Linked DNA regions of Homo sapiens. The protein of the gene in region 1 interacts with the protein of each later gene in a pairwise test. Each region holds a gene or a part of one and is shown on either strand. Other genes may lie near its edges. The genes, in order: BASP1 and LITAF.

What was found.
Region 2: the proteins of BASP1 (region 1) and LITAF interact in binary tests that used the Homo sapiens proteins (3 or more experiments, as listed by UniProt).

Annotation. Positions count from the first base shown.
Region 1 is NC_000005.10:17,211,561-17,220,630, forward strand, and holds the start of BASP1 (brain acid soluble protein 1), read left to right. Parts: upstream 1-6,070; 5' UTR 6,071-6,250; intron 6,251-9,070.
Region 2 is NC_000016.10:11,547,295-11,556,459, reverse strand, and holds the end of LITAF (lipopolysaccharide-induced tumor necrosis factor-alpha factor), read left to right. Parts: intron 1-2,770; coding exon 2,771-2,927; intron 2,928-4,655; coding exon of another isoform or gene 4,656-4,737; exon of another isoform or gene 4,738-4,753; intron 4,754-6,714; coding exon 6,715-6,823; 3' UTR 6,824-8,738; downstream 8,739-9,165.

The DNA.
Region 1 (9,070 bases):
TAGGGAGTTTATCAAAAAGCAGAGTTAGGTAGACACTGGAATTTGGTCCGTATTTGCACTTTAGAGAAGTAGGCAAAGCAGCATCCCTTAATGTATTTACTTATAGTAAAAATGTGCATCCTTTGCATTCTGGTTAGCAATTTGCTTTTGCACTTACCAATTTATTTCGGGCACCATTCCTTGCACTGAAGTTAAAGTAGAAATATTCTAATTATGGTAAGGGCTGATCTGAGAGTAGAAGCAGGTGGTGCTGAGGAGTGGACGCAGCACACACTATTTAACACTAGGACCTCTACAGTCTCCATTATTCAAAGGTGGAGCCATGTGATTAATTGTTCTACAACATTCTTTGTGCCATTTTAAGGTAACTTGTTCTCTGACTGGTTTAACGGGTGACAATGGGGGAAGGGTAGCCAAGGAATCGAGGACTGTTTTCCCAAGACTGAGCTTGCTATGCCATAATCCCCTCCCTGGTGTCTGTAGGAACAGGTAGGCACTGCATGGAAAAAGCCCTCGCTGCTTAGGAGGCTATCACCTTTTTACCATTGGTTTGTTACAGGAAAGGGTCCCAATCCAGACCCCAAGGGAGGATTCTTGGATCTCATGCAAGAAAGAATTCAGGGTGAGTCCATATAGTACATTGAAAGCAAGTTTATTAAGAAAGTAAAGAAATAAAGATGAGTACTCCGTAGGCAGAGCAGCGGCATGGGCTACTTGGCTGAGGATACTTATAGTTATTTTTTGATCATATTTTTAAAACAAGAGGTGGATTATTCATGACTTTTCTGGGAAAAATGTGGGCAAGTCCCAGAACTGAGGGTTTTTCCCCTTTTTTGACCATATAGGGTAACTTCCTGATGTTGCCATGGCATTTGTAAACGGTCATGGCACTGGTGGGAGCAATGAGGACAATCAGAGGTCACTTTCGTTGTCATCTTGGTTTTGGTGGGCTTTGGCCAGCTTCTATACCACAACCTGTTTTATCAGCAAGGTCTCCAAGACCTTGCTGTATCTTATCCTGTGACTTGGAATGCTTAATCTCCTGGGAACGCAGCCCAGTAGGTCTCAGCCTTACTTTGCCCAGCCCCTATTCAAGATGGAGTTGCAAGGGTTTAAATGCCTCTGACAATTTTATGTATTTTCTTAATAGAAAATGCTGGGCCGGGCGCGGTGGCTCACGCCTGTAATCCCAGCACTTTGGGAGGCCGAGGCGGGCGGATCACGAGGTCAGGAGGTCGAGACCATCCTGGCTAACACGGTGAAACCCCATCTCTACTTAAAAAAAAAAAAAATTAGCTGGGTATGGTAGCATGCGCCTGTAGTCCCAGCTACTTGGGAGGCTGAGGCATGAGAATCTCTTGAACCTGGGAGGTTGCAGTGAGCCAAGATCGCACCACTGCACTCCAGCCTCGGCAACAGAGTGAGACTCTGTGTCCAAAAAAAAAAAAAAAAAAAAAAAAAGAAAATGCTGGTGACTAGAAATGTACTTTGGGACTGAAAGGATAGGTGGCAGAATTACAGTCTATGAAAGGGAGAACGGGGTTGGGAATGAGAGCTATTCAGGTAGACAGGCTTGTTTTTATCTGCCTCTCATCTTGGGCAAATGTTCCTAATGTAGCACCAAGGCCAGGCTGTCCCCTCCATTTCAACTCCGATGCTTCGTAGTAAACAAATGTTTGCTCAGGTTTCCCAGCTCTCCTTTTACAGTACATGAAGAGGAAATTAAATAGGGAAGCAAGGTTAAGTCATTTTCTTCCAGTTACTTGGTGTGCAGTAACAGGGAATGCAATTCAAAATCATTGCTTTTAATCTTTGACATACCTCTTGAAACTATTGCCTCAATTTGTGTTATAGTGGAGAATGGTGGTTAATGAAGGGCTTAGCGCACATTGTGCATTGCAGGCCCTTGTTAAAATTTCTCCATTAAATTTTGTGCCTCCAAGCCTTTTGCCCTGCTGAAGATACCTTAAGCCACAGGAAGAGGCAGCTTCCCTCTGCAGCATGCGCTCTTAGAAAAAAAAAAAAAAAAAAGATCAGGTATTTTCCAACTGGGCAGCAACTTGATGCTCATTTAAACCTGGGTTTCTCAACCTTGCCATTATTGACATTTTGGCCCAGAATGACTCTCGTGGGGTTGGGTAGGGTTGGGGTAGGAAGGAAGACAGACGAATATATAGATTTCAATATTTTCCTTTGGTTAAAAAATTATAAATATATTTAAGAGAAAAAAAGCCGTACACTTTCATCTGTAATACTGTCTGGCCTTTTGCTTGCAATTTGCAGATAAGATTTTGTAAACAAATTGCAGCAAGTTGGTCCTCCACGGAAAACTTACCAGTAGAGCTGAATTTACTTTCAAATTCTCTAAATGGGTTTCTGAGGGTTTGGGTTAATGCAGTGGCCTTGAACAGGAACTATCCAGAAAGATGTCAAGCAAAGGTGGCTAGAGTCACACTCGGGTGACACTACTGTCACCATGCTTCTGCTTCATTCTTGTTCTACATCTTTTATTTGAGATTTTAATCCTCTTTTTACTATTTAAGAGGAAAGGATGGGGAACTGAGAAAGACGCTAGGCCTTGGTGGGTGATGTGGGAGGTGGGGAGAGGGAAGATAAGAGTGAGGTTTTGAGGCTTGATGAGGTCTGTATAATTATCTATTGTAGGTGTCTTAGTTGACACAATAGATATGATTTGAAAAGCTGAAGGCACATGGAAATTTTTGTAAACTGACTAGTAATTTAAATGACAATGAGACCATTATATTGCAAGCAAAGACAAATCTTTTAGAAAAAAATTAGTAATCACGAATAATTTATCTTTTGGATAATGATTTTCATAATGCAGGTTATGCTTCCCTGGAGCAAGTTATGCAGGCAATTAAAAATGACAATGGAATTCAGTTTATAACCGATGAAATCCAGCTTTGTTTGTCAAAAACAAATGCATTCATTCCATTTGGAGAGTAAAACAGTCTTTTTTTCATGAGCATAATGGTGAAAGCTAATTAAATTTATCATAAATTACACCCTTAATATTTGTTCTCAAGATCATTAGTCTATAATGTAAACAGACACATTCACAATAGTTAATGTTAACAGTTTTCTAAAATTCAGAACTTTAAAGGTTTATTCATTTATTCCCTAAGCATCAGTTTAAAAAAATGTTTTAAAGAGCATACACATTAAAAAGTATGATATTAGATGAACAACTAAAAATTAGACTAAAAACATCGCCAAATTGGATTTTATATAGTAATATTGTTACATTGAGAGGTAACATTTTGGCAACCATTTGCTGCAAACCTACAAATTCTGTAAAAGCTTCTAAAGATTAATAGCACTATCAGTCAGTTGCATCATTATCTCATTGAAAATGAATTCTCACCCTCCTTTAAAAAAATTTAAAAAAATGTTTTAAGAGAACAACTAAATCTGATGGAAGACAAAATTAAGGAGACCTGCAGTTCTCCTTGTTGGTGTAAGCTTTTGCCTCCGGTTTCTATGGTAACCCGTGATCTGTATTCCAATCACACCTTTGAAAGGTTTGTTTTCTCCATCATGAAAATTTAGCTGGAAGCACTGAAGGTACTGAACATTAATTTTTATGTTGTCTTTTTTTTTTGGAAAAATTGGAAAAAGAGAATAGAGAAGGAAGATAACACCCACAGGCTTAGACTGCAAATACAATGAGGAAATGTATTTGCTAATTTTTAGATGATTTACATGCCTGGAAGATCACAAGGATAAAAACCCTGAATGCTAAATGAACAAGTAGGCAGCTCCTCTAACAAACTCAGGAAATGTCTTGAGCAGAACATTGCAAATATTCATCTAATTCGATAGGGTAAAAACCTAGAGACTTGCTCATAGAGGTTGAAAGAAAATGTAGCTCAGTGGTTTTCAGCCTGGAGTGATTTTGCCTCCCAGGAGACATTTGGCGATATCTGGGGACATTTTTGGTTGTCACAACTGGTGCTGGTGCTGGTGGTGTGTGTGGAGGGTGGTACTGGCTGCTAGTAGAGGCCAGCAATGAATGCCAGACATCCTACAGTGCATAGGACAGCCTTCCACAACAAAGAAATATCTGGCCCCAAAAGGAGGTGGGAAAACCTGCATCCTCCATTTAGCTTTATAGATGGTGTACTGGTGTGAGGGAAATAAATATTCAAAAGAATAAAATGCTTTAGAAGCAACCTCATTTGTAATTTGCTTCCCTGGTATTTTACTACACTAACTTTTTATTTCACTTTAAATGGCAGAAAGAGAAACAGGAAAAAACAAACAGTTCCCGCTTTTTTCTTACCTTTGGTTTAAATTTGAACATTTCCAGCTGGCATGCATTAATCTAATTTGGTGCTGCCTCCTATGACCTGTAAATGTGTACAGTAGGGTCGTCAAGTGTTTCCACTGCAAAATCGCTAGTGCAGTTGAGTAAATATTGCCACTTTGCTTAATTCAAATATGTACGTTAAAGTTACGATAAGTTAATTTTCCTGTTAAGTGAAAATGCACTTACCTTTACCCAGTTGAATACAGATGTACTTGCCTTTGACGTCTGCCTCCCTAAGTATGGTTACAGTTTGTCACTCCGGTTCTGGAGGGCCACCCTGTCCCTGAATTCACGCCCAGGTCCTGAGGGCAGAACCATCCTGAGGACAACCTGCAGCTCCATCGATTTTTTCTTGGCTGGGACGCAGGCGAGCATGAAAGCGATCCAAACACAGCCAGAGGGCGCCAAAATGCCGCAAATAAAAGTTCCAAAGGCGTCAACTGGCTTTTGCGGGAAGGTAAAATTGGCTTTTGTGTAATCAAAGAGCTACCGTTGTCAACGATGTCACGTTACGTTATTTTTGTATGTCCCTCTTGCCAACAGGTAAGCAAAGTGAACGCATCTTCCTACCCCGGTGGCTATTCTGTGTCCCGGTGCTAAACCAAGTGTCCGCCCCCTTAGGGCACCCGGACAAGCCGCGGTTGGCCCTAGCTTTGACTCGAGCGCTCGCAAGCAGCAGCGTGCGGGCTGCCTCGGCCAACCCCGTCTTCTCAATATTGGTGGCCTCCATTAAAGCACAGACATCAAAAACATCGACGGCCCCTTTCCCCTCTTCTCTTCCCTCCTTCCTCTCCCAAGTTCCGAGAGCATCCTCCGAGGGGCGACGTCTCTCGCCCCACCAGCTGGACCTCGGCGACCGCGCCTCCCCCGAAGCTGCAGCCTTCGGGGCTGAGCCCCGCGGGTGCGGGTGCAGGTGCGGAGCCGCCCAAGGTGCGCAACTCGTTTGCAGCGGCGCAGCCCAGACGCGCCTGCAGCTGGGGCTCACCCCAACCTCGCTGCCAGCCGAGGTAGCGGAATCGTAGTCGACGTCGGGAGCGGGCTGGACTGGGGTCTGAGAAGGGTAGCTGGTGCCAGGGGGTGTCATTCATCACCTCGAGGCAGCTCCCTAAGTCTGAGCGAGAGCCCGAGCACTTCTTATCCAACGGTTCCAAATAAATGAGGGGGAGAGAGAGAGAGAGAGTGAGAGAGAGAGAGAGAGAGAGAGAGTGAGTGAGAGAGTGAGAGAGTGGGAGAAGTCCACGGACAGCCCAGGCGGCGCGGCGGGGGAAGGGGGACGCAGGAATGGAGGAGAGGAGAGGGGAGGCGGAGGGGGGATCTGAATAGAGGGCATTTAGGAAACGTTGGCGGGGCACAGAGTTGGGAGGTGGGGGGAAGGGAGGAACCAGGATGGCGGATAGGAGAGAAATGGGGGTGACTGTGCTGGAGGGGAGGGGAGGTGGGGGCCCAGAGCTGGGGGGAGTCAAGGGGAGGCGGGCGTGTCCAGGCTGGAGGGGAGAGGGGAGGGTCTGCGCCGGAGGAGGGGAGGGGAGCAGAGGGAGTGCAGGGGGTGGGGAGATGGAGCTGGAGGGGGTGGAGGGGAGACGGGCGGGGCGCCGGGCTGGAGGGAGGGGAGAGAGGCGGGCGGGGAGCGCGGGAGGAGGGAGGCTGGGCGGGCGGACGCGCGGGGGGAGGGCACTGGGCAGGAAGGGGAGGGGGAGCGAGCGCGAGAAATGCAGAGGCTGCAGCGGCGGCGGCGGCGGCAGTAGCGGCAGCGGCGACGACGGCGGCGGCAGCGCTCCAACTGGCTCCTCGCTCCGGGCTCCGCCGTCGAGCCGGGAGAGAGCCTCCGCCAGCGGCCAGGCACCAGCCAGACGACGCCAGCGACCCCGGCCTCTCGGCGGCACCGCGCTAACTCAGGGGCTGCATAGGCACCCAGAGCCGGTAAGGAGGCGCGCCCGGTGGCCCCGCGCCGCCGCGGACCCGGGGGCCTCCGTCCCCCACCGCGCCGCGCCCCGCCCCGCAGCCCCCGGGCTCTCCCTTCATGCAGCGGGCAGCAGGGATGTGGGCCCGGATTGGACGGCAAGGGCCTGGGGTCCCTCTGTGAGGGCTCCGTCGCACTTCGGGGATCCCGGGTGATGGGGGGCCCAGAAGTGGGAGGCTTCAGCCGCTCGCATGGTGGAGGGGTGAGGGGGGCGGCGAGGTTGGTAAACGGAGCTGGGGGGAGGGGGCTGTCGGGGAGAGGAGCTGCGGGTGACGGGAGGAATTGCCGAATGCGAAACCCCCTCAGTGCGTTGAGTCCCGGGGAGACGGTTCTGTGGGCTGAAGGGAGCGCTTCCGTCATCGGAGCCCTTACCAGCCTGGGAGAAAGCGCTCGGGGCGAGGGGCGCAGCAGCCAAAGATGGAGGGTGGGGGTGGGGTGGGGCGGGAGTCCGGGGAGAAAGAAGATGGGGAATCTGGCCCGATCAGAAGGAAGTGGGTGGCTTTTTGCTTTGGCAAACGGGTTTTCTCGACCCATGGGACTCCTGGATCTTGGTTCTGGGGCCAAGGAATACGAGGTTCACACGGCGACGTGCACTCAGAAGCACCTCCCGAGCAGATCGGAGCCCCAGCCTCGTCAGTGGCGGAATTGCCTTCCTACGAACCCGTGGGCTGCCTCGGAGCAGTTTGTTTTTTCGAGCCTTTGGTTCCAAGAATGCGCCAGGCGCCTCCGCCCTGGGTCCCGGCCCCGGCCCGGGCCCGGGGGGTGTGGGCTTGAACCTGACAGCGCGCGGCCCTAACTGGGCTCAGCCCCGCTGGGAGCGTAGGGTTGGGGTTGAGCAGCTTTTGCCCAAAGCGCTAAAGCTGAAACCCGGCGCCCGGTTCCTGCTCCCCCCGCCCCCGTCCCCCCTCCATTTCCAGAAAAATAAAAATTGCGGAATCCTGGATCCGATCGCACGCACAATGCGCGGCTGCAAACCGCATTCTTTTCATGAATATTCATCGAACGCTTGGCCAGGCTCCTTATCTGCGTCCCCAGAGACATTTCCGCCTTGAAACGAACTCGGTGGACAGCCCTTGCCCATGTAATTCTCACTCTGCTGAAATTAGCACAGCACACATGGGTGCATTTTTTAGGACCTTGTACAGGTTGACAACACCTCTGTCTCCCCCGCGGCCACTCGCACTGTGGGGCGGGCTAAAACCCAACACTAGCGTCGAAATGGCCTTCTGCTATAGGGTTGTGGACCGACCCCCCACCCCCACCTCCCGGGATTACAGCCCGGGCCAACAGACCCCCAGTATACTGCAGGCAAAATGAATGAATCGGGACTGTAATTACCTATTCCTTTGTCTTGGCCTCGCGCATGCGCCGGAGAGCAGGGTGTGGAGGGCCCGGCAGCCCCATCCCATCTCCATCATCCAGCCACCCACTCCCCTCCCGAGCCGAGGAACAAAGGCGTTTGCCCTAAATGTTGCGGGAAACCCTTGGACACCAATGACAGTTTTTCCCGCCTGTGTGTGTGTTTCTTCTTTTCCAGGCTGTCTCTCATCTTTTGCTTTCTTGCTGATTTCAATTGACCAAAATTAAGATTTGCCTTGATGAGGATGAAGGCAAATTGTGGATTAAATATTTTGTACCCGCACACTGTTATTTTCCTTTCTAGTACTGTTCATTGTTCTTTTTCCTGTAACATATCTTACTGCAGTGAGGGTGGCTTTCTTAATTTGCATCAATTAACCGTTTGACAGATCTTTTTTGGTCATTTGATTAAGGGAAGGTGGCCTCAAAACTGTCAGTGGGCGTTGCCTCCAGTGACACCACCTGGGGAAAATTAAGACATCTTGGCGTTTATTCGAACAAGATGGCCTACAAAAACCGGAGAGAAGAAAACGATTACCTTGTCGGGATCCTAACCCTTTCTGTTTTCTCTGGACTCCGAACTCATTGTTTCATTAAGGATTCCAAAAGGCGAATGGCGTCCAGATGGAAATCTGATGGGGGCAGAAAGAAGGCAGTCGTTGGGGTGAAGCTGGTTGATTAGGTTCGCAATGATTCCTTTTTCCCCATTACCTAACAGAAGCCATGATATACCTTTGATGGCTGATTTTCTTTCAGATGATCTATTTTCCAGGTTATGGCCATTTAGATTTATTTTCAGGTAGTTTGTTTTTACCACACAAAAAGGGACTTATTGTGTATATTAAATAGGAGCCAAATATGATATTTTTTGCAGTGGTAGGTTATGTTTAATAGGGTTTTATGCTTAAGTACTGTCAGTACATCCTGGTGGAATAACGCGTGGCAGCAATGGAAATCATCTCTTTTGTCCTTTTTGATGAGAACTTGATATTGACCACGTTTAATATATCAGGGCCCATCTACTGGCTACGGTGGCTGTCTAGCTGTCTTCTAGGTGGCATGGATTGTACCCTCTGTACTCCTTAGTATTGAGTAGGTTATTATGATTTAGAGAGCTACGTTCTTTCTTTTTTCTTTTCCTTTAGGTTGTGTTTTTGGCGAGGGGTATGTTGGAATATAGAACAAATTCAATAGCAAATATATACCAGCATGTCCCCAATTCAGTAAATCTTAGGTTTTTGAGTGAGATAATATTTAAATCGATTTTTAAAAATTATTACAGAATTAAAATATTTCTATCAGTTCGCTTATTCTTTTAGCCAGCTAGCTTTTTGCCAAGCTTTAGCAGATAGAGAAATTGAGCCTTTTGATAAAAAGCACCAACAATGACAGTGGCATTTCTGTTCTTTAACTGGTACTCA
Region 2 (9,165 bases), on another chromosome or scaffold:
GGAATCAGGAGAGTGACCGAAGTGACTCTGCCAAAGAGTCTAAGTGAAGTGCCAGTACGTTCCAGTTTTACCCCCTTACCTTGAAATTCCACACGCAGTCTTTTAGATTCCATGTTGGTGAGGCTCACAGCTTTTCCGTAATAAAGTATGGTTTAGGATCTTTCCCATGGTCATCATATACGAATCTTTTGGCACATCTCTTGGAGGCACAACCAACTTTCTTCTGAGAATGGGAGTTTGTGTCTTAAGGGCCCGCACACTTCCTCCTGAGGTCTGATGCAGAACTTCTGCCCTGAGGCCAGGGCCGAGGTAGGAATAGGGAGGAGAAGAAACCGTCCTGAGCAATGTGTGATTGTGTTTTCATACCAGCTCACCCTCAATGCAAGTTGCTCTTCTGCTTTTGAGCAACTAGATGGTCCCTGTCCTTTGGTGCTTCCTTCCGCCCAAGGGTGCCCTGGTATGTCACTGCTTTAGTATCACAGGTAGTTCTGAAAGAAATCTTTAGCTCAGAGAGGGGGCCCGTGAATCAGACTGCCTGGGTTCACATAACCTCCTTGTGCCTCAGCTTCCCCATTTGTAAAATAGGTTTCATCAAGTACCTATTTATAAATATCAGTGAGTTGTTAACATGAGAGGAAGTTGTGTGTGCCAAATACAGAGTACTCGTTTGATAAAAGTGAACTCTTATTGTTGTGTTCAAGTTATTTTGAGCTGGAAGAGGATGAGATAATGACTTTAGATTCTTAGACCATCCTGTGATCAATAAATAGTTTCTTTTTCTTTTTCTTTTTTTTTTTTTTTGAGACAGGGTCTCACCATGTTGCCCAGGTTGGAGTGCAGTGGTGCAGTCATGGCTCGCTATAGCCTGGACCTCCTGGGCTCAAGTGATCCTCCCACTTCAGTCTCTGGAATAGCTGAGACTACAGGCATACAGCACCACACCTGGCTAATTTTTAAATTTTTGTGTAAATCGGGTCTCACTGTTTTTCCAGGCTGATCTTTAACTCCTGAGCTCAAACGATCTTCCCACCTCCCTTGGCCTCCCAAAGTGTTAGAATTATCAGCATGAGTCACAGAGCCTGGTCCAAATAACTTATTCTTGAACCCCAAAAACACTTAATAAAATGTATGAACAGGGTGTGGTGGCTTGCGCCTGTAATCCTAGCTACTGAGGAGGCTGAGGCAGGAGGATCACCTGAGGCCAGGAGTTCCAAACCAGCCTGAGTGACATAGTGAGACATTGTCTCTATGAAAATAAAATTAGCTGAGTGTGATGGCTTGTACCTGTAGTCCCAGCTACTTGGGAGGCTGAGGTGGGAGGATTGCTTAAGCCCAGGAGGTTGAGGCTGCAGTGAGCTATGATTGTACCCCTGCACTCCAGCCTGGGCAACACAACAAGACCTTGTCCCCCCTGCCAAAAAAAAATTACACGTAAGTGCTAAAGTATGATTTAATACTACTTTTCTGGAAGGAGGGTCTTTCTATGAGTATTACTAAGTTCAGTTAACTCTAGGCAGTAATTTCCCCCTAATTCATTTGTTATATAAATGACATTCTAACGTAAAAAGGAACAGAAGGAAGTTGCTTTAACAAAAATATGAGCTTAACAACTGAAGTGCTTGATGATTTTCATCACCCTGGGTTCTCTCTTTTTTTTTTTTTTTTTTTTTTTGAGGTAGAGTCTTGTTCTGTTGCCCAGGCTGGAGTGCAGTGGCATAATCTCGGCTCACTGCAACCTCTGCCTCCCAAGTTCAAGCAATTCTCCTGCCTCAGCCTCCCAAGTAGCTGGGACTACAGGCACGTGCCATCATGCCCGGCTAATTTTTGTCTTTAGAAACAGGGTTTCACCATGTTGGCCAGGCTGGTCTTGAACTCCTGACCTCTGGTGATCCACGCACCTCGGCCTCCCAAAGCCAAGGGATTTGCTGGGATTACAGGTGTGAGCCACCGTGCCCGGCCTGGATTCTCTTCTGATTCTTGAGAATGTTCGAACATGTTTTCACATAGCTTTTTCTTCCTAGCATTATTTTATATTTTCATTTCTTGTATCAACACAGTTCACTAGCTTGTTGTCTTACAGAGTTGGCCTGCGTTTCCTGGCTTGGTAAACTCTACCCTTATCATTGGCTGTCAGAGTTTATCAAAGGGTTTGTGTAAAGAGAGTGGATTATTTATCAAGAGCTGCTAGGCACAGTGTGAGGCTGGTTAAAATTTATTTATTTGTTTTTGGGACTGAGCGTCGCTCTGTTGTCCAGGCTGGAGAGCAGTGGCGCAATCATGATTCACTGCATCCTCAATCTCTCAGACTCAACTGATCCTCCCACCTCAGCCTCCTGAGTAGCTGGGACTACAGGCGTGTACTCCCACGCTGGGCTAATTTTTATATTTTTTTGTAGAGATGAGGTCTTGTCATGTTGCCTAGGCTGATCTCAAACTCCTAGGCTCAAGCAGTCCTCCCACCTCGGCCTCCCAAAGTGTTGGGATTACAGGCATGAGCTACCGCGCCCGGTCCTCCTTTCTTTTTGAGGCTGAATCATATTCTGGTGGATGGATAAACTTCGCTGTGTTAGTTTATTGGTCCGTCGATGGACACTGGTGTTCCTTCCCCTTTTGGCTCTCATAGATAGCCAGACGATGAACGCATGCTATGAACACAAATGTACAAATATAATATTTGCTGGCATCCCTGCGTTCCTCTCTTTGTCCTGTAGTGAATGCTATTGGCCTTGTTTCCTGAGCAACCTGTGTTTGTCCCTCTCCCTTTCATCAGTTACCGTGCAGACGGTCTACGTGCAGCACCCCATCACCTTTTTGGACCGCCCTATCCAAATGTGTTGTCCTTCCTGCAACAAGATGATCGTGAGTCAGCTGTCCTATAACGCCGGTGCTCTGACCTGGCTGTCCTGCGGGAGCCTGTGCCTGCTGGGGTGAGTCTGCCTCCCACTTGGCCCCAAGCCATCCTGCCCTTCTCTCTGGGTGCTGGCGGGGGTGGGTTCTCAACTGCACCATGCTTGACATTCAGGGCCAGACATTTGTGTTGTTTTTTTTTGAGATGGAATCTGGTTCTGTCGCCCAGGCTGGAGTACAGTGGGGCGATCTCGGCTCACTGTAACCCCCACTGCTCAGGTTCAAACGATTCTCCTGCCTTAGCGTCCCGTGTAGCTGGGATTATAGGGGTGCACAACCACGCCCAGCTTATTTTTAGTAGAGCTGGCATTTCACCATCTTGGCCAGGCTGGTCTCAAACTCCTGACCTCAGGTGATCTGCCCACCTTGGCCTCCCAAACTGCTGGGGTTACAGGTGTGAGCCACTGTGCCTGGCCTAAGGCATTTCTTTCTTTTTTTGTGATGGATTCTCACTCTGTTGCCCAGGCTGGAGTGCAGTAGCACGATCCCGGCTCACTGCAACCTCCGCCTCCCAGGTTCAAGCTATTCTCCTGCCTCAGCCTCCTGAGTAGCTGGGATTACAGGTGTGCACCGTCAGGCCCGGCTAATATTTTGTACTTTTAGTAGAGATAGGGTCTCACCATGTTGGCCAGGCTGGTCTCGAACTCCTGACCTCAGGTGGTCCACCCGCCTCAGCCTCCCAAAGTGCTGGGATTACAGGTGTGGGCCATCATGCCTGGCCCAAGACATTTCTTTATTGTAGGGGGTGTCCTGTGCATTGTAGGATATTGAATAGCATCCCTGGCCCCCACCCGCTTAATGCTAGGAGCACCACGCTCCCCAGTGTTCTGAACAAAAATGCCCCCTGGGAGGCCAAGTCATCCCTGCTGCTCTTAAGCGTATCCGTCCCCAGAAATTGGTCTTCCGTCTTTTCTTCTTGCTTATCTGCTGAAACCACGCCCTGCATGTAGGGACAAGCTTCACAGCTGCTTCCAGCTGTGTACAGGGCAATATCCTCAGGGATTCCTTTTTCTTCTAGAATTTCATGACCTAAATAATAATGTTTTGCTCGAGCCCGAGGGAAGCTTTAAAGAATCTGTACATTAAAATTCTTCATAGGAATTGCTTCAAAACTTCTTATCCTTTTATGACCCGAAGTATTTTTCCCATTGCCCATGCAGGGAAATTATATAAATTTTATGTCTGCACCAAAGGTATTATGTTTAAAGAGATAACAGTTTCTGTTCTGGGAGAAAAATCTGAGGAAACACAATCAATTTTTTGTTTCCCACCAAGCAGGTAAAAGTAGCTTCCTTATACCTGGCCACGTGAGCCACTCAGAAAACCCCAAGGGGCTCCATTCTTTTCCTTGAAGGAAACGGTGTTTGTGAGTTTCAGGAGCCTCATGCAACCGGCACGTTCCTCCACATTGTCCTTTGGTGACTTGAGGTTGAGAAGGAACAATATTTCTCTTCCTAACTTCAATAAGAGGCTCAGAGTCCCAGAGAGTTTAGTTAACTTCCTTGAGGTCATGTGTTAAATAAGGAAGGAAGGAGACAAAACAGCTTTCTGGGCACCTGATTCCCCCTCTTGCCCACAGGACTCTGCTGTTGTTTTCATTCTGTGGGCAGAAAATGCTTAAAAAAAAAAAAAGTCCATTGCCTCTGGATATTTGTATTAAAACAAATTTTTTATCTTTGGAATCAGGGAAAGATGGAATAGAAACTTGTTTTGTTTTGTTTGAGGCTGAGTCTTGCTCTGTTGTCCAGGCAGGAGTGCAGTGGTACGATCGTAGCTCTCCGCAGCTTTGATCTCCTGGGCTCCTGCAATCCGCCCAGCTCAGCCTCCTGAGTACCTGGGACCACAGGTGTGTGCCACCATACCTAGCTAATTTTTAAATTTTTTTTTTGTGTGTGTGGAAGCAGGGGTTTTACTATGTTGCCCAGGCTGGTCTTGAACTCCTGGACTCAAGCAGTCCTTCTGCCTTGACCTCCCAAAGTGCTGGGATTATAGAGGAATAGAAACTTACATTGAGTATTGGCCTCTGCCAGTCTGGCTTTAGAAATTGAGGCAACCTTTCTTTCCCTCCCTTTGTTCCTTCCTTAAACATGGTAGAGTGGGTTCAAATCCTGCCTCTCACTAGCTGTGTGGCCATGGGCAAGTGACTTTACCTCTCTGTGCTTCAGTTTCCCCATCTGTAGACGGGGGTGCGGGGCAATAACGCCCACCTCAGGGCCTGCTGAGGATGAAATATGTGTGTGTGCTGCCTGGAGCCGTGCCTGCACCTGTAAGCCATAGGTTAGGATTCCTGCTGAATGGATTGACTGCCCTTATTTGAGCTCTGGAAAGCTTAGGCAATAGGAGGAAATTTCTTTCATGAGATAATTTCCTCATCAGAATATTTCCAAATTCTGCTTTATGTAAACCAGCGTCTTCCTGTGAAGGGTTGAGTTTTAACTCCATTTTTGGCAAACATTGGTTGTCAGGCGGTCTGAGGTTCCTGCCTGTGTGTGCCAAAGGTGGATTATGTAGGTTAAGAGGCATTATTTGGGGAACTCTACTTGGTTGCTGTAAGAAGCAGCCTGTCTATATGGAAAAGAGATCAGTAAGACGGGGGTTGGCAAAACGACCCTGGAGCCAGGCGCCTGTTTTAAGTTTTACGGGAACACAGCCACGCCTGTTGGTTTTTGGATTCTCTGTGGCTGTCTTCTCATTCCAAGGGCAGAGTTGAGCAGTTGCAACAGAGACGCCATGGCTCATCAGGATGAAAGTATGTGGCCGGGTGTGTGGTGGCTTCCACCTGTAATCCCAGCAATTTGGGAGGCGGAGGTGGAAGGATCACTTGAGGCCAGCAGTTCAAGACCAGCCTGTGCAACATAGCAAGACCCCATCTCTACAAAAACAAACAAAACACAGCAACAAAAAGACTAAAAGATCTACTATCTGTCCCTTTGCAAAAAAAGTTCACCAAGCCCATCTAAGACTTTGAAAGACTCCCAAATGACCCCAGATTTGAAAATAATACTCAAAGGGGCTCTGTCTGTAGGAGGAGCCTTGGCATTGGCTGGCATGTTAATTTCCTAGGGGTGTCATCACAAATTACAACACACCTAGTGTTTAAAACAACAGATATTAACTCTCACAATTCTAGAGGCCAGAAGTGCAAAATCAAAATGTCAGCAGGGGCCGGGTGTGGTGGCTCTCGCCTGTAATCCCAGCACTTGGGGAGGCCAAGGCGGGTGGATCACTTGAGGTCAGGAGTTTGAGACCAGCCTGGCCAACACGGTGAAACCCCAACTCTCCTAATAATAAAAAAATTAGCTGGGCCTGGTGGCATGCGCCTGCAATCCCAGCTACTCAGGAGGCTGAGGCAGGAGAATTGCTTGAACCCAGGAGGAGGGAGAATTGCTTGAACCCTGGGCGACAGAGCGAGACTCCATCTCAAAAACAAAACAAAACAAAACCAAAAACTAAAATGTCAGCAGGGCCACGCTCCCTCCTAAGGCTTCAGGGAGAATCATTTTTTGCCTCCTCCAGCTTCTAGTAGGTCCAGGTGTCCTTGGCTTATGGCCTCATCACTCCAGCTTCTGCCTCTGTCTTCACATTTCCTTCTGCCCTCTCTGTATCTCTGTGTGTCCTCTCCTCTTCTTCTAAGGTCATTGGGTTTTAGGGGTCCGCCTGGATAATCCAAGATGATCCCATCTCAAAATTCCTAATTATACTGGCAAAGACCCTTTTTACAAAGAAGGACATGAACATGGTTTTGGCAGCCAGTGTTCACCCTGTTGTGATCAGTAACGCGCTCCGTGTGTCTCTCTCTCCTCCCAGGTGCATAGCGGGCTGCTGCTTCATCCCCTTCTGCGTGGATGCCCTGCAGGACGTGGACCATTACTGTCCCAACTGCAGAGCTCTCCTGGGCACCTACAAGCGTTTGTAGGACTCAGCCAGACGTGGAGGGAGCCGGGTGCCGCAGGAAGTCCTTTCCACCTCTCATCCAGCTTCACGCCTGGTGGAGGTTCTGCCCTGGTGGTCTCACCTCTCCAGGGGGCCCACCTTCATGTCTTCTTTTGGGGGGAATACGTCGCAAAACTAACAAATCTCCAAACCCCAGAAATTGCTGCTTGGAGTCGTGCATAGGACTTGCAAAGACATTCCCCTTGAGTGTCAGTTCCACGGTTTCCTGCCTCCCTGAGACCCTGAGTCCTGCCATCTAACTGTGATCATTGCCCTATCCGAATATCTTCCTGTGATCTGCCATCAGTGGCTCTTTTTTCCTGCTTCCATGGGCCTTTCTGGTGGCAGTCTCAAACTGAGAAGCCACAGTTGCCTTATTTTTGAGGCTGTTCTGCCCAGAGCTCGGCTGAACCAGCCTTTAGTGCCTACCATTATCTTATCCGTCTCTTCCCGTCCCTGATGACAAAGATCTTGCCTTACAGACTTTACAGGCTTGGCTTTGAGATTCTGTAACTGCAGACTTCATTAGCACACAGATTCACTTTAATTTCTTAATTTTTTTTTTAAATACAAGGAGGGGGCTATTAACACCCAGTACAGACATATCCACAAGGTCGTAAATGCATGCTAGAAAAATAGGGCTGGATCTTATCACTGCCCTGTCTCCCCTTGTTTCTCTGTGCCAGATCTTCAGTGCCCCTTTCCATACAGGGATTTTTTTCTCATAGAGTAATTATATGAACAGTTTTTATGACCTCCTTTTGGTCTGAAATACTTTTGAACAGAATTTCTTTTTTTTAAAAAAAAACAGAGATGGGGTCTTACTATGTTGCCCAGGCTGGTGTCGAACTCCTGGGCTCAAGCGATCCTTCTGCCTTGGCCTCCCGAAGTGCTGGGATTGCAGGCATAAGCTACCATGCTGGGCCTGAACATAATTTCAAGAGGAGGATTTATAAAACCATTTTCTGTAATCAAATGATTGGTGTCATTTTCCCATTTGCCAATGTAGTCTCACTTAAAAAAAAAAAAAAGAAAAAGAAATGGATAATTTCATCTACTGCCTTTACTTGGGGTTAATGTGATTCTTAAACACCTTCATCATGGAACTCTCAGAGTGGGGTCCGTTTTGGTTTCCTGGTGGTGGGTTTTGAAAGATAAGGGAAAGCACATTTTGAGCATGTCTGGGTACCATGGTGCGGATGCTTGGGAACCAGAACTGTTTCAGAGGAATCTAAAGTCTGATTTTAGTTTTCAGAGACACAGCTTGTTGTAAAACATGAGAAGACATGATTTCTAGGACTCAAGCAGCAAGCCAGGATTCTAGGTTGGCTGCTGTGTCATCTTTGAAGTCAAGACAAAGCTGGGCTCGACCTTCAAGGGTCCTCGTTTTGATAATACTTCAGAATAGGGAACTCATGTGAATACTACTATGTAGAAATAAAACCTAGACCTTGAGCGAACATCTGTATATTGGTTGAAAACGATAGTGGTAACCATTGATCCCCCTTCATTTGATGTTTGGAAAATTCCAGTAATTATCATTTTTGCAACGAATATGGATACCACATAGTACTTTGGTGTTACCTGCTTTTGAAAAATAAAGTCTTTGGTTCACCCGGTGAACTATTTATGAGTTCTTTTGGTGTGAAGAAAGGGCTCATGTTGCATTTCCAGCCATTGCTACAAAGAACCTTTATTTGTTCAGTAACGGTAGAAAATCCTTCCCGATTAAAAACTTCAGACTTGCTGAATATCCTGCAATGTCAAGATGACCGATGTTGAGTTGGGTGGATTTGCTAACGAGTCAGATTTGAACATGAGGCTATTGGAACCCAATAGGCGTCATTGATGGCGGCAAGCCATAGCTTTCAAGTTTTAATAAAATGCACAAAAGAGAACTGTCCCCATTCATTCTCTGAACAAAACATGCTTTGTGAGATGCTAAAAGGAGGGTATTGTAACATGTCAGGAATATGGATGCCGCCTTCCCCCGTCCTTTGCTACCTGATGATACAGCTTCATTTTGCTAGATGCAAGGAAATAATGTCATCTTGGTGTGGCTTAATTGTCATTTAAACCCTAAATTACAGTCTTGAAAAACTGCTGCTTTCCAGATCTTGATTGTGTAGTTTCGGGGCCATGCATATTTAGCAGTTTGGCTCAGATGGTGGCATGTACATGATCTCAAGCTATTATTAATTACATATGCAAAGTCTTCAAAACAAGAGCCCTATTTCAGGATCGTAAAAACATGTCTTATGCGGAACTTTCATGTCAGATGCCTGGAGTGTGAAGTGTTCATTGGACATTCCATTTTACTGTTCG